Homo sapiens: one gene and its partners. The protein of the gene in region 1 interacts with the protein of each later gene in a pairwise test. Each region holds a gene or a part of one and is shown on either strand. Other genes may lie near its edges. The genes, in order: MMP2, COL5A1 and THBS2.

Evidence for each region.
Region 2: the proteins of MMP2 (region 1) and COL5A1 interact in binary tests that used the Homo sapiens proteins (3 or more experiments, as listed by UniProt).
Region 3: the proteins of MMP2 (region 1) and THBS2 interact in a two-hybrid assay, tested with the Homo sapiens proteins (one study listed by BioGRID).

What each region holds. Positions count from the first base shown.
Region 1 is NC_000016.10:55,482,198-55,489,315, forward strand, and holds part of MMP2 (72 kDa type IV collagenase isoform 1 preproprotein), read left to right. Parts: intron 1-711; coding exon 712-938; intron 939-1,818; coding exon 1,819-1,967; intron 1,968-3,101; coding exon 3,102-3,230; intron 3,231-3,406; coding exon 3,407-3,580; intron 3,581-6,345; coding exon 6,346-6,519; intron 6,520-7,118.
Region 2 is NC_000009.12:134,840,789-134,845,447, reverse strand, and holds the end of COL5A1 (collagen alpha-1(V) chain isoform 1 preproprotein), read right to left. Parts: intron 3,292-4,659; coding exon 3,145-3,291; 3' UTR 605-3,144; downstream 1-604. UniProt on the Homo sapiens protein: Type V collagen is a member of group I collagen (fibrillar forming collagen). It is a minor connective tissue component of nearly ubiquitous distribution. Type V collagen binds to DNA, heparan sulfate, thrombospondin, heparin, and insulin.
Region 3 is NC_000006.12:169,222,794-169,229,911, forward strand, and holds part of THBS2 (thrombospondin-2 isoform 1 precursor), read right to left. Parts: intron 6,887-7,118; coding exon 6,779-6,886; intron 5,489-6,778; coding exon 5,329-5,488; intron 3,506-5,328; coding exon 3,387-3,505; intron 3,162-3,386; exon of another isoform or gene 3,002-3,161; intron 2,872-3,001; exon of another isoform or gene 2,587-2,871; coding exon 2,352-2,586; intron 683-2,351; coding exon 455-682; intron 1-454. UniProt on the Homo sapiens protein: Adhesive glycoprotein that mediates cell-to-cell and cell-to-matrix interactions. Ligand for CD36 mediating antiangiogenic properties.

The DNA of each region.
Region 1 (7,118 bases):
GCTCCCTGAACCTCTGCAGGGACCTGCTCAGTTTGGGCCTCAGTTTGGGCAGGGCCAGTTGTATGACTCATGAAGGACAGGACTACTTTCTTTTTGCAAATGGCTGATTCAGGATTTAAACCCAGGTCTGTCTACTGCCAGAGCCCATGCACATAGTCCTTGAATCTCTTTAGAAGAAAACAGGAGGAAAAAAGTCCCCAAGTCACCAGCCGCAAGGTAGATAAATGAGTTGATAGAGGTAAAGGAAGGATGCTGGAGTATAATGATTCCATATCACAGCCTCTGGAGCCAGATTGCTTTGTCCCAAATCCAGATCTACCATTTGTGAACTGTGTGATCGTAAGCAAGTTTCTTAACCTCTCTGTGCTTCAGTTTCCTCCTCTGTATAATAGGGTTAGTATATCTACATTACAGAGTTTTGAGCATTAAATGAGTTAACATATTCTGACTTTAGTGCCTGGACATATAGTCAGCACCCAGCACCAACAAGTGGTAGCCATGCTCTCTATAGCTGTATGTCCTGTCGCTCAACTAATGGGTGACCGTGCTGGTTTGGGAACCCAGTACTCCACCCAGTGCTCTGGGACCCCTGGCTTATTTCCTGTCTGGACTATGGCACTGGGTTGGGGGGCTGATTGCTACAGCCTGCTTTGGTCAGTACTGTGCCATCCTAATGTGGCTAATTGCCTTGGGGGTGTGCATTTCTTTCAGCAATACCTGAACACCTTCTATGGCTGCCCCAAGGAGAGCTGCAACCTGTTTGTGCTGAAGGACACACTAAAGAAGATGCAGAAGTTCTTTGGACTGCCCCAGACAGGTGATCTTGACCAGAATACCATCGAGACCATGCGGAAGCCACGCTGCGGCAACCCAGATGTGGCCAACTACAACTTCTTCCCTCGCAAGCCCAAGTGGGACAAGAACCAGATCACATACAGGTGCCGGGGCAGGGCTTGGGGAGGCAGGGCCATGGGGCTGAGGGACACGAGTCTCCTTGACCCATGCATTCTCTCCACTCAGGGGATCCATGAGGTGTCTTTTGTGAAGGCTTGACATCTTAGGGAGTTTCAATACACAGTTCTTAGAAAATGAAGTCAGACAGACTTGAGTTTCATACTTGCTGGCCATGAGACATTGGGTTACTTTTCAGTGCTGTGAATGTTGGCTTTCCAATCTACAAAATGGGGCTTAAAAAATGCCCTTATATGGTATGTTGGGGAACTAAGCTAGGCTGAACTAATACAAACGGCTTCTATGATTTTTGACACAGAGCAAGAGTGTAGTAATGCTAGTCATTGTTATTGTTTTTAGATGAGGTCATTGGGATGGGCAGAAGGAACGTGATGATTGGTAGCTAATTGGGTTTAGCAGCCCAATTGGGTTATAACTGGTTGCTAATTGGGCCAAGAGCTGTGCTCTGTATGGGTGGTGCTGGGTTCCAATGGTGGGATCTTTGCCCTGTGCCCCATAATGCACTACTTATGGCCCTCCCCCACCAGCCAGAAGTGACAGATGGAACTCCTGAGCTGGGGCCTAAAAATGTTGGCTGGCCTGGGACTCCCTGGGTCTTCAAGGCATTCTGGGAGGGTTGTCCTTGGCAGTGAGCCCTGCCCAGCCTACACACACATACACGCAGGCACATGCTCACATATACATACACATACCTGTGCACCCTTCCCGTGCTTGTGCATATACTTGTATGTTCACATACACACACACACTCAAACTTTTTCATACATCTGTGCACACACACATACTTGCATATACATACACTTATGCACATGCATACACACTCACATGCAGTTCTACCACCTCCAGGATCATTGGCTACACACCTGATCTGGACCCAGAGACAGTGGATGATGCCTTTGCTCGTGCCTTCCAAGTCTGGAGCGATGTGACCCCACTGCGGTTTTCTCGAATCCATGATGGAGAGGCAGACATCATGATCAACTTTGGCCGCTGGGGTAGGCAGAAGATGGGGCAGAAGAGGGGCCAGCAGGGATCAGTGTTGAGACGAGGGGGTGAGATGGACATTAGAGGGGCGTGGGGATCCTAAGGGCGGCTTAGATAGGACAGTAGATGGTGTGGGCCCTGGGGGTGGTTTAGATGGGGGCAGCACAACACGGAGTGGACACTGGAGAGCCACGTTGACATGGGGGCAGATGGTGTGTTGTGGTATAACCTGGAGGCCGTCTAAACCCGAAGCAAGTGGTCTACTGTGCTGTCCAATATGGCAGCCATTAGGCAGAATATACATGGCTGTTTAAATTTAAATTAGTTAAAAATTTTAAATTAGTTTCCTGGTCACACTGGGCACATTTTAAGTGCTCAAAAGACACAGGAGGCTAGTGACTATTGATTTTGGACAGCACAGACAAAGAATATTCCTCTTAATCACAGAAAGCTCTGTTGGATGATGCTGGTAGACACTGAGGAACTGTAGATATATGAGAGTGGTTTGGAAACAGTGGAGCAGTGTAGACACTAGAGGAAGGGTCGTAGAACCTGGGGCCAGGTGGCCATGTGAGTTTATGGTGTGAACACTGCCAGTAGCACAGACATAAAGGTATGTGGTATAGACACTGAGTGGTAAGTGATGAAGGTAAAGAGCAGGGGAAACAATGTAGACAAGTGGGTGGGTGGTACAGGCCTTGGTGACAAGGTGGGCATGAGGATTCATGTTGCAGATATTGGTGATAGTGTGACATGAAGGCAGGATTGTGGTTAAGAGGGCAGTATTGACAGGATGGAGGATGGCATAGACACTGGGGATGATGAAGATGGGGTGAGGACACTAGTGTGGTAATGTGGGTATGTGGTACATATAGTGTCATGGTGGTAGAGTAGACAATGGAGGTAGAGGGTATGGATACTGGGAGTCATGTAAACCTGGGAGAGCAGTGTAGACCATAGGATGGTAACAACCAGGTCAGCAGATCTCTACTGAGCTCCTGTTGACAGTCCTGGATAACCCCACTGGGACAAGGGAAGGGGACAGATGCTGGGTGGGCTGACAGGCTCCACATGTAGATGGGGTGTGGAGGGGTTTCAGGGTCTAGGTGGCACAGCTAGACGCTAAGACCCAGTGTGTGTTTCAGAGCATGGCGATGGATACCCCTTTGACGGTAAGGACGGACTCCTGGCTCATGCCTTCGCCCCAGGCACTGGTGTTGGGGGAGACTCCCATTTTGATGACGATGAGCTATGGACCTTGGGAGAAGGCCAAGGTGAGAAAGGGGCCCTCTGCATGCCCCAGACCTTCTCTCCTGTCCTCTCTCCACTCCATTTGCTTGGACCAGAGAGGTGGGAGGGGAGGAAAGTCACACATCTGGGTGAGTCAGAATCTTGGTCTCCAAAGAAGGCCTGGAGAAGTCCAACCTCCCCCTTCCATGTCACTCTTTAGTGGTCCGTGTGAAGTATGGGAACGCCGATGGGGAGTACTGCAAGTTCCCCTTCTTGTTCAATGGCAAGGAGTACAACAGCTGCACTGATACCGGCCGCAGCGATGGCTTCCTCTGGTGCTCCACCACCTACAACTTTGAGAAGGATGGCAAGTACGGCTTCTGTCCCCATGAAGGTGAGCATCCACTCTAGTCCCCAAGACTTTCCACCCCAAGCCTCCAGCTTCCCGGGCTCCCCAGTGTGCTCTTCCCTCCACACTCTCCAGGACTGGCTGCCACTGCCAGTTAATGAGCATCCCTCCAACGTCCTTCACTCAGTTCCCCCCCATCCTGATCTGAGCCATTGCTGTTTCTCTCCCACCAGTACCATGATGAACGTAGTACTCTAATTAAATCAAGTTGATTTTTTTTAAGTTTCACCATTAGCAATCATTTAGGAAGTCACAGATTTGATTTGCTAATTATTTATTTCTAATATATATTGGAGTGAACTTAGAACTATTACAATGCCCAGTGGTTCTCTCTAGAACCAGTCTTTACACTTCAGTCAAGATTGATACTTCAAGGGCATGAGGAAAGGCTTGCTGGTAGCTGGAAACCTAGCAGTGTGATAGGGAGGCAGGACTCAGACCAGGGCTGGACTCAACCTGGTTTGCGTACTCCAACTGAGGAATTTCAGCTATTGCTCCTGCCTTGGTCCTGATGCTGCCTCTGCTAATGCGTGTGTGTGTGTGTGTGTGTGTGCCTGTGTGTGTGTGTGTGTGTGTGTGTGTGTGTGTGTGTGTGTGTCTGGGCACGGGGGCTATACTATCTGCCTCTCTTGGGCACTGTCTTTTTCTGCCTCCTGTCTAGCTTGTGTCTGCATCTCTGTGTCTTGATAAAGACTTTAGGCTTGACTCAGTATTTGTGTTTGTGTGCTTGTCAGTGCCTGAGATGCAACATTTCAGAGATTTTGAAGCCACATGGGGGAAATCTTTTAAAATGGGGTACAGATATTGACATACACACTCAATCCTTTTTAAAAATATCCTTGACACACTTAATAGTCATAAATCACAAAAAGACAATGTAACTTCATACTCTATGAAGTCATCATATTTGATAATTCTGCAGATTGAAAGCCCAGAAAACCTGGCGAAAATGGAAAAAAGTCTAAAAATTTTTAACACTATCTTCTTTCCCATGTCACAAAGACTCTATAGTCTACATAGACTAAAGACTGTCTTTTTGTCTGTAATTTTATGTCTGTGAATCTCCCTAACCCCACTGTAACTGAAAACTAAGCACCAACCATCTTGACAGAATGAAAGAAACAAAGAGCTAGTTAATTCCCTTCCTGTTTATGCTTTTACTACCAGAGCTAAACTTTATATTAAGTAAGAGTTTAAGCCATTCACCATTAATAAGTCAGACATTTTGAAATAAAAATATTTTTTGTATCTTGCGTTTCCCGGTAGGGATTACATGTGGCGTTAACCCTTCCCTGTGTCACCCCTCTGATAGGAACAGAAAGCTTTGGTGATAGTTAGATGTGGAAACAGCTGTATTTCATAAATTTGGGAAGGGTTATTCCCTGCATTGGACATTAGCCATTTACTTTGTGCTTAGCCAGATGCAAGTACGCACAACACGCACGTGTCTGGGTCTCGAGGCAGAGATTGTTGTTACTCAGCCCCTGCTGATGGCTGAGTCAGTGTCTGATTCTTGCCATCCTTGTCAGGGGAATTTGGGAGGAGACAGGGGCTTCCTGGGTGGTAGAAATGAGAGGTCAGAGGCAGGGGGCTGGCATTGGTCGAAGTTAACGCTTTGCCTTTCTCAACTCTGAGGCCACTAAGGTATCTGGACTCAGTCTTGCCTTTTCTCTAGGTGCCATTGTTTCTGGCATTGCAGGACAAGGTCTTTTGGTAGAGAGGGGAGTGGTGAGGATACAGGGCCTCGAGTTCTGTGGTGGGAGGCCAGGGACTGGGCTCCATTCCGGCCATGGTGGAGTTAACGGGGGCTGGTGAGGTCACCTCTGGCGCCGTTGTGCACAGATGGTCCTTGTTATGGACTTGTGGTTTTGCTGGTTGGCAATTCCAGAGACACCATTTTTTAGCTTTGGGTGGATGAGGGGAGGATGGGGAGAATCCAAGACAGACAGGCCAGGCTCTGAACCCCACTCCCTCCCCCAACTCTCCATTTATGGCCCCTGTCTTGAAGATGTCAAAGTAGGAGCCCAGAGTGTTTAGTAAAAGGGACCTGAAGGCACCACCTCCCTCTCCCTCCCTCCTCCTCTTCATTCTTTCTCTCCTTCCTACAGAGACTGCAACAAGGCCATCCAGGAAGGGGCCTGGGGTTGACAGGAGGTAAAGCAAGCTTTCTGTGTATGCGTGTGCACGCACACACACATATATGAGAGTGACAGACTAAGCAAGAGAGATTGAGATTAGTGTGTTTTGTAGTTTTTAGTTACAACCTTCATTCACTTCTTTCATTTCTGTGACCATGAGCAGTTTGAGAACCATCTTTGTCCTAGCCTTGATTTCTCCACCTATCAAATGGAGAGAGATTCTCGTGGTCCTGCCTGCCATGACTGATATATTCATGTCATACATCATTATTACATGAAATTTGCATGGTACAGGTGTGGACCAGGCAGAATGGACAGTGCCCTTGGGGCTGAGGCAGGGTTCTAGAAGCCCTTGCTGTGTGCCAGGTGTCAATCATTTTGTTGTTGGGTGGTCCACAAGGTCCCACGGGAGGGATTGGGATAACCAGGGAAGCAGGGGTTCTCTCTGGGAGCTCAGAGAAGCAGCTCCTTACCAACCAGTAGAGATGTTTTCTTAATATTTTAACAATGCATCAACTTCACTGGTGTGAACCGGCAGGTGGGCAGCCAGCCAGCCCTGTGCCCATGGAAGCATGTCTCATTCACATCCTTCCCTCTCTCCCCCACCCTTAGCCCTGTTCACCATGGGCGGCAACGCTGAAGGACAGCCCTGCAAGTTTCCATTCCGCTTCCAGGGCACATCCTATGACAGCTGCACCACTGAGGGCCGCACGGATGGCTACCGCTGGTGCGGCACCACTGAGGACTACGACCGCGACAAGAAGTATGGCTTCTGCCCTGAGACCGGTGGGTGCCACTCCCTCTCCCTCCCTCAGGGCCCAGCACCTGCTGTCTGACAAAAAAAAAACCCATAAGACTCCGAGTGCCCACCTCCTTTCCCCAAGACAGGGGTGCTAAGACATCTGTGCGAATGACATCCACACCAAGATGTCCGTGTAGCTAGTCAGGATACTTGTCACCTGGTATGGCCTGGGCACTGAAATCAGAACAGACATTGGGCATCAACAGTTGAATTGGTGACACTTAAATGTCAGGCCTGCTCAGGATCCTCTGACCGACCTGCATCCCTTTTCTCTCAGGCTCTCTGGCAGAGACTTCTCTCTCCTCCTCTCTGACCCTGCAATCTCTCTTCCCTGCCTTTCCTGGTCTGTATCTCCACCTTTTAGTCTGTTTTTTATTAAGAGCTCCGTGCTTTCCTCCCTGTCTCCTTCCTGCCCTCCTCTCTATCCCTCCCTCCTTTCCTTCTTCCCTTCCTCCAACAGGAATTTACTGAGCGCCTGCTTTGTGCAGCATACACAGAGGTTGGTCTCTGCAAAGCCCTGCCCAAGGGGGCTCACAGCTGAGGGGCATGTGCTGGTGCCATCAGCTTCATCCAACTCCCTTTG
Region 2 (4,659 bases), on another chromosome or scaffold:
CTTTAATAAAACAAAAATGTGCTTCTCCTGCTCCTGCTACCAGTTCTCACAAGCTGGCAGGGGGCTCACTCAGGGAACCTGCTGGTGACGTAGCCCCTCCACGAAACATGGCTGGTGCTGTGCCCGAGGGAACCACACCTTCAGACCGGAAGAGGCGAATGCCACGTGGGCTCAAGGTCATCGGCTGCAACGAGCCCCGTGCCTTCCCCGACCTCTAGCCACAAGGAGCTAGGGAGTCTAATCCTGCTACACAGCTGGAAGGGCAGTGCTGGAGAGCTTCAAGAACATTCTCGCAGGGTGCTGACTGCCAGGAGTGAAGAGTGAGGACAGTACACGGTGGTGTGGACACCCAGCAGTGGCTGAAACTCACTTCTCGGGCTAGTGCCCGGTTACGTTCTAACATCCTCCCAAGGGCACAAAGCTGTCCATGCCAGCCTTGGCCACTCCTGAGGGACAAGCTCCACCTAAGGACAGCCGGGGCCATCCCTTCCTTTCTCTGGGTGGCCAGTGTGGTTATCTCCAGAGCTCCTAGCGTCCTGGGACTGTGTGCAGTCCTGTCTGGGAGGGGCCTGGCCACACTTAAGAAGAGAGTCACTCACATCTGTTTACGGTGGAAACACCCAACTCGATTTATTGAAAAACTATTACAGTTAATTATTCCTTTGTTACACAAGTTTAGAATATTTTAAGATATCCTTTCCTGGGCATTACAGTTAAAACTTATGACATGTCTAGCGGATTTTTTGAAACCGTACAATGTGTCATTTGACATTGTATTTCAAAAGGCCTGATGTCCTCGAAACTTTATCTTGGGTTTTTTGCTTACCATTTTTTTCTTTTTGCCAGCGTTTGTCCAATTATATATATTGAGAGGAAAAAATAAAATTACACCAAAAGAATTTCTGCAAATATAAGAAGTAATTTTATTGCAATATACTGTGGCTAGAGTGGTCTGGGGAGAACGGGACACATTTTGAAGTTCAGTACAAATTATAACAACTTTGAAGGGACCACAGAGGAAGAAAATGACAGGAGAAAAGGACAAATTGGATGGGATGAGAAATGAAAACAGAATCACATGACCTAGACGCAGTCCACGGGGGTCGCGGGACAGTCCTCGGCTATGGCTTTTCTTTTGAAGAGATGAAGGTGACAGTCATTGGCACATGCTGGCATCCTGGGCTCCAGAGACTCTCCAAGCCAGACTTTTCTTTGGCAAGAGCGAGACTTACTTTCCAGGGAAATTTGGAAAATCCACGCTGGCGGTGTTTTGTTCCTCCTGGGTGGCTTGTTTGTGGCTTCCTAAGCTGGAACTGCATTCTGGTGGTGGTGGGGGTCGGGGACAGCACCAGAGCCCCGCAGGCTCACCCCAAGGGCCCAGCCTGCATTTCCCATGGTAGAAGGAAAAGGCGCTGCACCCGGGCAACTTTTCACAGTGAAGAGATCGCCTTTCCTGGCTGCCCCTCGGGTCCTCCTGCCCACAGACGGCAGCCCCCCGACCTCGATGGCCAGGAAAGGGTTCCCCAAAGGGGACCTCACCCGCCCCGAGCTCTGGAGCCGCTGACGCTCGCATCCAGGACATTTGAGATGGGAATCCAAATAGGCTACTTGGAAAAGACGTGCTGCAGGCAGCCCTGGAGAGACTCATGGAGTTCATTGTACATTACTCCATCTACCGAGGCAGCGCATGGCATGACTGAACGGCTTGGAACAAACACAGAAATTAGCACCACAAACATTCAGGAACCAAATATAATCTGCTATGGTCACACCACAGACAATGCAGGAAGAGGCTTTTTATTGCTTGTGTGTGTTTTCAAATCAAGTAGGCACAACCCAGTCCTCATAACAGCCCTCGGGAGTGGACGCACCGGGGCGGGAGAGCGCAGGAGGGAGTGTGCTTGGCTATCCTGCCCAGTGGAAAGGAAAGTGACGTGCATTGATCTTAGAGTCCTTGGCAACAGACTGTGGAGGCAATAACAGGATAAAGAAAGCAGGGAGAACGAGGCATGGCCAGGGTCCCCAGTGCGCCTTCAAGGAGACCTTAAAACAGATAGATAGCACCACAAGAGAGCCACAAGAGAGAAGTGTAAAAAATAAGCACCAATTTTCATTGAGTTATCACCTACAAAAAATGTGGTTTCCCTGCCCTGGACATTCTCCCATCAGGCTCTGCGGGAAGAAAAGCGGAAAAAGGAAGCAAATAAAATTAATCCAAACCTGTGTTTTAGTCTTAAGTGCATGTAGAAAAAAGAAAATTATCAAATTTTTTCCCTATTAAAAAAAAAAAAAGTCTAGAGCGAATCAAAAACTGTCTGAAAAGGGGCACTGGTACCTGCTTTTCAATGGCAGCATAAATTCTTGCTGCCCCGGGGCAAACTTCCAATTTATTGCACGTTCTTGGCCAGGGCGGGGGTGGGGAGACTTCCTATTTCTAATCAGAACGGTACTGCAACCCAGAATCCATGCCTCGCCCATTCTGTCCGTGGGACTGAGACTGGGTTTCCGTGCATGATTGAAAGCCAGGCACACTTAACATTTATAACAATACAATACAAATATTTACTTAAAACTCACAAAAACATAAGCACCTTTAATCCATCGGGAAGGCACCTGCAGAATGACATTTGGCCTCTAAATGGATCGTGTTGGAGGTTGTTAAAAACGGAGGCTTTGGTGATGGTGGGATGACCTTTACGAGGCTTACCTTGGAACATTTTTTGAAGGTCAGGGGAAATACACATCTTCAAGTTGAATTTAGAAAAAAATATAGTGTCCAAATCTGGCAGTCCCTCCCCCAACCCCTGAGACCTATTCACGAACAGGATGGGTCGGGCGAGCTGGGGGGCTGGAGGCATGGCCCCGCTCCCGGGGCGCGTGGGTGTGGACAGAGCGTGGGGCGGGCCCAGGCGCTGGGGTGCAGCTAGGTCATGTGATTCAGCTCCAGGTGGGGGCGCGGCTCCTTCCCTCTGTTCTCTCCGGGCTGGGGTCCCACACCCCGTGGTGCCGAGGCGTAGATGAAGTCAGGTGGGAGGGGAGGGAGAAGCCTTCACTGTCCAGGGTCAGGACGTGCACGGGACACTCACGAACGAATGGCATGCTGAGGTCACGAGGTTGCTCTCGGGAGCCCGGGCTCGGCGGCTCCTAGCCCATGAAGCAAGCCGGCCCCACTTCAAATCCAAATTTCTGTGACGCTTCACCGAAGTCATTGAACATGATGTCCACGATGGGCACCTGCTCCACTTTGGGGGTGTCGATCTCCAGAACCGTCTTCTGGTAGCCTTTCTTGGTCTGGGGAAGAGGGAGACAGATGGCCGGTGGTTAAGAACAGTTGGGGGTCTTGGGGTTTACCAATCACCCCCCACAATCTGTCTGGCTCCAAAACCCAGGCTGGTGTCCTGTCTCCTACCCAGGGCTGCGCTTGCCCGGGCAAGTGTTGGAGGAAATATGGCTGATCAGAGCATGCATTTAACCCCGGTGGATGTCCCAAGAGTCCCCCTGCACAGGTCGGAGGTGGGGTGGTGTGGGCATCAGCGAGGCGACAGGACCCTCCCAAGGCTTCAGGGGTGGCTGAGGCACACACAGGATTGAAGCTGATCAGCCTTCCCACCGTGCCCAGTCCAGACTCCTTGTGATGCCCCAGGTATTCACTTCCAGGCAGCCTCCCCAGGACCCAGGGCCAGCTACAGAACAAGCAGGGCACACTGGAAAATCAAACGGGGGCTCCAGGTTCGAAAAGGAAGGAGTCCGAGGCGGCACCGGCAGAGCCTTGAGCCAAGTAAGACCCCCCTACGACCACCTGCCACACACTGCCTTAGGCACTCGGTGGGCTGGGTCTTCACCTCCACAAGTATGGGAAGGGGTGGGGACCTTCCACACCATCTGGTCTAGAGGAGTCTTAGGTAAACTGAGGCACAGAGGGCAGGGGTAGTGCAATGAACCTGGCCTGCAGGATGAGTCAGCACCCATCCCTTGCTCAAAACAGCACAACCCTGGGCGCTGGGATGTGGGATGGAAGCCTAGGAGAGGCCGCCTCCCTCCCAGAACACAGGCAGCGCAGGTGTGAGATTCTTTGGTCCCTCCCCAAAGCCACCCAAATATAACTCCCAGTGTTCTTTATAACTGAGGCTGAGCTGGCCCTGCTGTCCCGTCAACTTCCCCCAAGACAAGGGCCCTGGAGGCCGCACCTTTCCCGCAAACCAGGAGCCTGCAAACGCATCCTGGGCAGATGGCTTTTGCTACCTCAGACCCAGACTGGATTTACAGTCGCAGCTGGATCTGGGCCTGGGAAGGATCTCCTTCCACTGCCCCATCCCCAAAAGAAATGATCAGATAAACAAGTAGGGGCCAGCCAGGGTTCCCTCCCGGATGGGAGGCAGTGACCCCAGGATGCAGCCCTGCAGAGGGCCCAGCGCAGACTCCCAGGCCGGAGATTCGGATAGCAGACAGCAGCTCCAGCTCTCCCGGTATTCTGCTCCCTGACCTATGGGGAGGGCGTGGCCTTGAAGGGCCTTATTCTCCCTGACTATGATCTTAATGTTCCCGTTCCCAAAGATGGTATTAGGAGGTGGGGCCGTTCGATGGGAGTTGAGGAGGTCCTGAGGGTGGAACCCCATGAGTGGTATTAGTGCCCCTATAAAAGAGGCACCCGAGAGACTC
Region 3 (7,118 bases), on another chromosome or scaffold:
CAAAAAAAAAAAAAGAAAAAAAAGAAAAAAAAAAGAAACAGGTTTCAGGCAATCCCCAGCTTGGCCCTGTGACCATCTGACAGTGGATGCCCAGCAGGCAGGGCGGGCTCCCCTCATCATCCCGATGGGCTCTTTTACCATGAGATTAGTGGAATTGAAGGTATTTCTTTTAGATCCAACTTACAAGAGTTCTGAGAGGATTATGAGGTCCCATTTCATAGACCAAGTCTATAAAATAAAATGGTTTACTGAAATTTCAGAGACTTCAGAGCGGCAGGTGCATGTACCTGTCAAGGTTATTTAGGCAGACAGTTTCACAGACCATGGAAGGATGGGGGCTTCCAGAAAGACCACATGGCATCCCACCTGCATGATCTTAAAGTGCAGTCTGCATCTTCTGTGGGCGCCTCCCCCGGAGAAATGCTGGCACCACCGCCGTGTCTCAGAGACTCACCTACAGCGATGCCGGGGTCCGAGTTGGCTGTCTGAACCAGCTCCTTGCCTTGATGGCGAATGACCCAGTTGGGATCAATTTGGGTGGTCCCTTTGGGATCCAAGGGGACCATCTGGAAGTTCCTGAAGTCTGTCTCACTGATGGCATTGTTTTCAGGACACACATCATCAATATCTGGGATGTTGTCATTGTCAAAATCATCTTTACAAATATCACCCCGTCCATCACCTATGCACAAAGAACAAGCAAAAACAAAAACAAAAACAAAGAAGCAAAGTCGGTGGTCGGTGGTTTGCCATTTGCTTTTCCGTGTCTGAGAAACATGAGTGCATCTTTCCCAGAACATCTAAGACTGAGTGCTTTGCAGTGTTTTGTGGATTCGTGCTCAACAATCTCCAAAACATTTGACTTCACAGGAACCTCAACTCTTTTCACAAAATTTTTGTGATAAATACACAGCAAAGGCCAGCACAGCAAATTCACATAAAGCCATTTCTCACCGTGTTCCAAACTCAATGCTGCAGGTATAAAACCTGAATGGCTGTCAAGTAATATCAACCTGCATTTCCAGCTTTGTGTTTGGATAGTTTTCTGAATGTCTGTTATTACTTTTCTTAGTCATCCTTGCCTTTTATAGTCTATTTGGCATTAAAGCGGAACTCACACTAAAATGGTTTTTCCTAGGGAGACATGGACTTCCGCTGTTTAGTGGGTCCTTGTCAAGTTTTCAGCGGGGTTGTGGCATGGTGGGGAGTGGGGATGAGGTGGGCCTGGTGCAAACAGGGGGACCACGAATTTGCCACATGTGTCCAGTCTATCAGTCTACGGCGATGACGATAACCTGACAGGCAGATTGCAATGTACTGAATTAGCTATCACGTGGCCTGCCGTTTTGGAGGAAAGGCAAGTTGGATTGAATATCTCATCATATTCTTCAACTAGTTTCCGTTCTGTTCAAGAACATACTCCAGCTACCACGTGGCAGGCACATAGTTGGTATCAGGGCATTCTGAAATGCTGAAATGCTGCTCTGCCTATCAGCTTCTCTCTGTCCCAGTCCCTCCCTGGGGAAAGGCTGCATGGGGAGCAAGCCCCTGCATGCCCGAACACGGAGTCCAGATGAGGCTTGCTGTGCTCACTCCATCCCTTCATGCTGCTCGGGGAGAACACAGGAGCTGCCCTTCTGATCCCAGCATCTCCCACGTACTTCTGAGTCATGCTGTCTCAGATGCCCCTCAAGTCCTTATCTCCCTCTGTCAAGGACGTGGCTTCCAAAGAGAGCCTGTGTCAGCCAGGCCCCACTCCAAGTGAGGGCCACTTTCTCACAGCCTCCCCGGAAGCCCCAGAGCACAGCTGTGCCCTTGTTTATTACTCAGGGACGCTGACTTAGAGGACTGCAGCCCATCCAGCTCCTTCCTTGGGCCCCCGTGGCTATGGGCCACCTATTCATGCTCACTGCTGAGCAAAGCAGCTCTTCCTCTCATGCTTCACACTCGTGCCACTTTTGTTGGCTTTGCTTTCAAAAAAATCCTCCTTGTCCCCTGCCTGGCCCCATACACCAAATTCCCAATTCATCCTACGTTCGTAACCCGCATTCTTTCTAGGAGATCGTCAACAATCTGGAAGTTATATGGAGGCAGGGATTTCTCCTCCTCCCGACGTGCACACACACTTGAGGCAGCACACCTGTTGAAGGGCACACACACAGCCAAGAATGTGTTGAGTGTCAGGGGAGAAGAAACTCATATTGCATGGACCCACAGCTTTAAGAGGCCCAAAGTCATTGCCCTTTTTCCAGCAGCAGATTTAAGATGATCTCCGTGCATACATATCTCTGCCCTGGCGGGTTGCTCAGAAGCCATTTTCCTCCACGCCCATGAGCTGAGAGAGCACCCACCGTCCAAGTCCTCCTGGTCTGGGTTGAACACAAGCCGGCAGTTGTCCCTGTCATCGGGGACGCCATCGTTGTCATCATCAGGGTCACAGGCGTCGCCCTGGCCGTCTCTGTCATGGTCAGCCTGGTTGGCGTTGGAGATGTAGGGGCAGTTGTCCTGGTTGTTCTGGTGGCCGTCGTCATCTATGTCCTCGTTGTTGTCACACTGGTCCCCAACAAGGTCATTGTCCACGTCGGTCTAGGGGATGGGGCGTGAGAGAAACAGCAGAGGACTGCCAGTTTGAGGAGGTGGAGAGGAACCAGCAGGACGCAAGCCTGAGAGCCGGCCTCCTCGTCCTGCAGCACAAGCCCCAGGGCCACGCAGGGGCGGCTGGCCCGAGGTCACACTGACCCTGACGTCAGGACAAGCACTGGGGCCAGGCCTCTCGGTCCAGGAATCTCTCCACCCTCTGCCACCTCTCCACAGTAATTCACTTCACTAAAGGAAGATGTGCTTCTTCGCTGGAAAAGCATGAACTACCAGGTAATTATGTCTCTTTTTTACACCATTTGCGCCATTTACACCATTTACATCATAGGATAATATATCCTATGAGCTGCATCAAGATAACTGTCCTCCCTTGTCTCTTTCAAACGCAAACCTGGAAATGAAGCCAATTCCTATGTTGGCATCAGGAAAATGGGGAGAGAATTCTGTGAAGACACAACCTCGCTCCAGCTGATGAGGTGAAGGCGTCTATTCATTTGGCCTGTGGCCACTGAGATACAAGAATAGTGCTGAGATTTGAGTTGAATAAATGTTTTCAATTGAAATCATTGAAAACTCCATGTTATCCTGTCTTTGTGGAGCTCATGGAAAACTCCCAAGGCCCCATGGAGGGGACTGATGAGGACCTGAGACCCGCCTGCCCATGGCTGCCCTCATCTGGTCAGGGTTGTGCACCAGGGGCAGTTGTCACAGTGATCCCCCACACCGCCACCGTCCCCGCGTCCCTCTGATGAGGACCTCCAACCCCGCCTGTCTGCGGCTGCCCTCACCTGGTCAGGGTTGTGCACCAGGGGGCAGTTGTCACAGTGATCCCCCACACCGTCACCATCCGTGTCCCTCTGGTCAGTGTTGTAGACGTAGGGACAATTGTCTCGTTCATTGAAGACATCTGTAAGTGTTTAAAGGGGGAAGAAAACAAAAACAAACCAGAAGGACAGGTGAGTTTAGAAAAAGCACATTGTTTTTCCTATCACACGAAATTGCTTACAGCCACACTTCTATTTAATTATAATAAAAAGACGCCTAAGAATATAGTAAAATATAAAGACTATTAGATTTTAGAAGAACATATGACATATTTCATTACAGTTCAAATACCTTTCATTTGAAATAGAACCAACTTTTGGAGATTTCTGGGTAATGTTGCAGGAGGGGTAGTTGAATGTGCTGTCGCCGTGTAAATCTGAGCTTGCTAAATTGCTTATTTCTCCCTAATACCCACTTGGAAAGTATGTGTTGAGTTCCCAGGAGTTTATCATCCATGCACATGAGTAGGAAAAAAACAATGGCAGAGAGTGGCAGGGTTTTTAGATGTCATATCTTATCTTAAGAAATCTGAAAGTGATGAGTTGCATTGATACTGAAGTTACAAAAATATAAACTAGCACTGAACTAAACAATACCATCAGTGACAGTGTCACAAATGACAGAGCAAAATGTTACACGGCAGCGAGTCCACAGGAAGAGCCAGAACTGAGCTGAGACGCTCGCCTTGCTTTGGTCAGGTGAGGTCTGGAGAAGGGAAGTAAGGAACACCTAAAAAATAAAAATGGAAGGGACTGGAGCTTGAGATCTGCATCCAGCACATCACAGACGCCATCCTGGATGGGGAGCCGAGGAGCCCCCTGGCCACCACGAGCCCTCAGACAGCAACCCACCACATTCCCAGAGAACGAGAGGAGGGTGGAGGCAGAAATCAGTGGAAAAGATCAGACTGAGAAACCCGCTGTGAGACAGAACAGCAGGTTGGGGTGGCTCAGAAAGGGGGTGGCTGGCGCCGGGCTGGGAAGAGGACCCCACGAGGCGAAGTGTGGAGGAGCTGGGGCCGAGCTCCAGCGTGGAGGCGAGCCTGCCCCCAGCTCTTGCTGGTTCTACAGAAGCACTCGCCTGGTCTCCAGGCACCCCAAGAGAAGGGATGACCATGCGGTGACAGTGGCACTGGGTTGCAGAGCTCGCTTACCAAGGCCAGCGAACTCTCCGGATAAAGCAGCAACCGGGATCAGTGGCAGAGGTAACCACAATACACCCACGTTATTCTAACTCCTAGAAGCTCAGTTTGATGAAAACATGAAATGGCTTCTTGGAATTTTTGAATGAAGGGTGAACATTAGAAAAGATGCCATGAAGAAGCACGAGGCCCAGGACTGCAAGGCTGGGGTCAGAGAGAGGAGGATACCAAATGCATAGCTTTCTCTAGGGCGGTCCTGTGGCTGGTGTCCCCTGACCTTCAGGAAAAGGCAAGGCAGAATAAGCATGGGTCCCTATGGGAATAACTGAATGAATCATTTAATCTTATAGTAGTGTAAAAATGAAAGGAGCTTATCAAAATTCAGAATAAAACATGAAACTTGCCAATGCCTCCAATTGCGACCCTTAAAATGCATGCATTGGGCCGGGCGCGGTGGCTCACGCCTGTAATCCCAGCACTTTGGGAGGCCAAGGCAGGCGGATCATTTGAGGTCAGGAGCTTGAGACCAGCCTGGCCAACATGGTGAAACCTCGTCTCTACTTAAAATACAAAATTAGCTAGGCGTGGTGGTGTGCACCTGTGATCCCAGCTACTCAGGAGGCTGAAGCAGGAGACTCACTTGAACCCAAAAGGTGGAGATCGCAGTGAGCCAAGATGGTGCTACTGCCCTGGGCAACAATAGTGAAACTCCATCTCAAAAAAAAAAAAAAAGTGCACGCATGGGAAGGAGCAGAAGCACCCACCGTCCCCATCAATGTCCACGGAGCAGGCGTCACCCTCTCCATTGTTGTCTGTGTCGATCTGGGCAGGGTTGTGCACGTAAGGGCAGTTGTCACAGCGGTCCCCAACCTCATCCTTGTCATAGTCAGCCTGGCGGGGATTGAAGAGGAGCTGGCAGTTGTCCTGGAAAACCAAGAAAGGGAAGACTTTAACGAAGATCATAGGAATGTGTGTCGGGCCGTTTAGCACTTATAAGTTATGTACTCAAGGTTGATGAAAATCAATATAGAAATCAAACAAACACAAAAGCCAGTTAGGGCTGGACGGTGGCTCACACCTTTAATCACAGCTGGGCACTGTGGCTCACACCTGTAATCCCAGCACTTCAAAAAGCCAGTCAGGGCAGGGCACGGAGGCTCACACCTTTAATCCCAGCACTATGGGAGGCTGAGGCGGGCGGATCACCTGAGGTCAGGAGTTCAAGACCAGGGCCGGGCGCAGTGGCTCACACCTTTAATCCCAGTGCTTTAAAAAGCCAGTTAGGCCCGGGCACAGTGGCTCACACCATTAATCCCAGCACTTTGGGAGGCCAAGGCAGGCGGGTCACCTGAGGTCAGGAGTTCGAGACCAGCCTGGCCAACATGGTGAAACCCCATCTCTCCTAAAAATACAAAAATGAGCCGGGCGTGGTGGTGTGCGCCTGTAATGCCAGTTACTCAGGAGACTGAGGCAAGAGAATCGCTTGAACCCAGAAGATGGAGATTGCAGTGAGCCAAGATCATGCCATTGCACTCAAGCCTGAGCGACCAAAAAAAAAAAAAAAAAGAGTTAGCCCTCGCCAAACACTTTTTCCATATCAAATCATTTTATCATTATTTATGCATCTGTCTTTTGTTGAAAATTTGTAGATTGCTAAGGCAAAAATGGTATATCATACACTTCATGGTGAGGAGAGATATGTAAATATCAAATAAATGAATGGATTAGTGAGTCAATGTCTCCCATCAAAGTCAGATGTAAAAAAGCAGTGAGTAAAATCTTGATCTATTCTTGCTAGAGCTGTTTTGTGTACAAATACATTAAACCATTTGTGTTTGCAGCAATTTTCTTAGAAAAATGGTAATATTTTAAATGTTGCCATAAAGGCAAGTCTATCACTCATGGTGGTGTCAGCCTTGCCCATCACTGGCTCCTCAGCAGAAGGAGAGGAGGTCTTCTATTTTTTTGCAGTTAAAATAGAAAAAATTATTCAAAACATTTCCGGCAGCACACCCTGGGCAGCCCCATGCACTGAGGTAAAATCCGCTTTTGCAAAGGACTGTCTTTATAGTGACCTTTGGGAACTGCCTATGCACAAACGCTTGCAGGACAATGGCAGTTACGTTGACAAGGGCTGTTTGGTATAAAGTGGCCTCCTGTGGACCTCGCTGCTCCTGGAACCCAGGGCAGGTGCGCGGCACAAGCTGCTCCTACCTTCTCATCGGTCACACCGTCATTGTCATCGTCATCATCACAGGCATCGCCAATCCCGTCCTTGTCAAAGTCTTCCTGCCCAGAATTTGGCAGATGGGGGCAGTTATCCTGCAATTGGAGAAGGAAGAATACTTGGAAAAACATTTAGGAAAGCGCCTCTTTCAGGAATGCAGGTGAAATGAAACCAGCATGGCGCCGAGGAAGGAAGCGTGCCCCATCAGTCCTCGATCTCAAGCGGGAGCTGAGAGAGGAGCCAGGAGGCCAGAAGCGCATGAATTTCTTCTCAACTCCTGCCCTGGAAATTATGTCACCACTACTCACGAGGGAGACAAAAGAAACT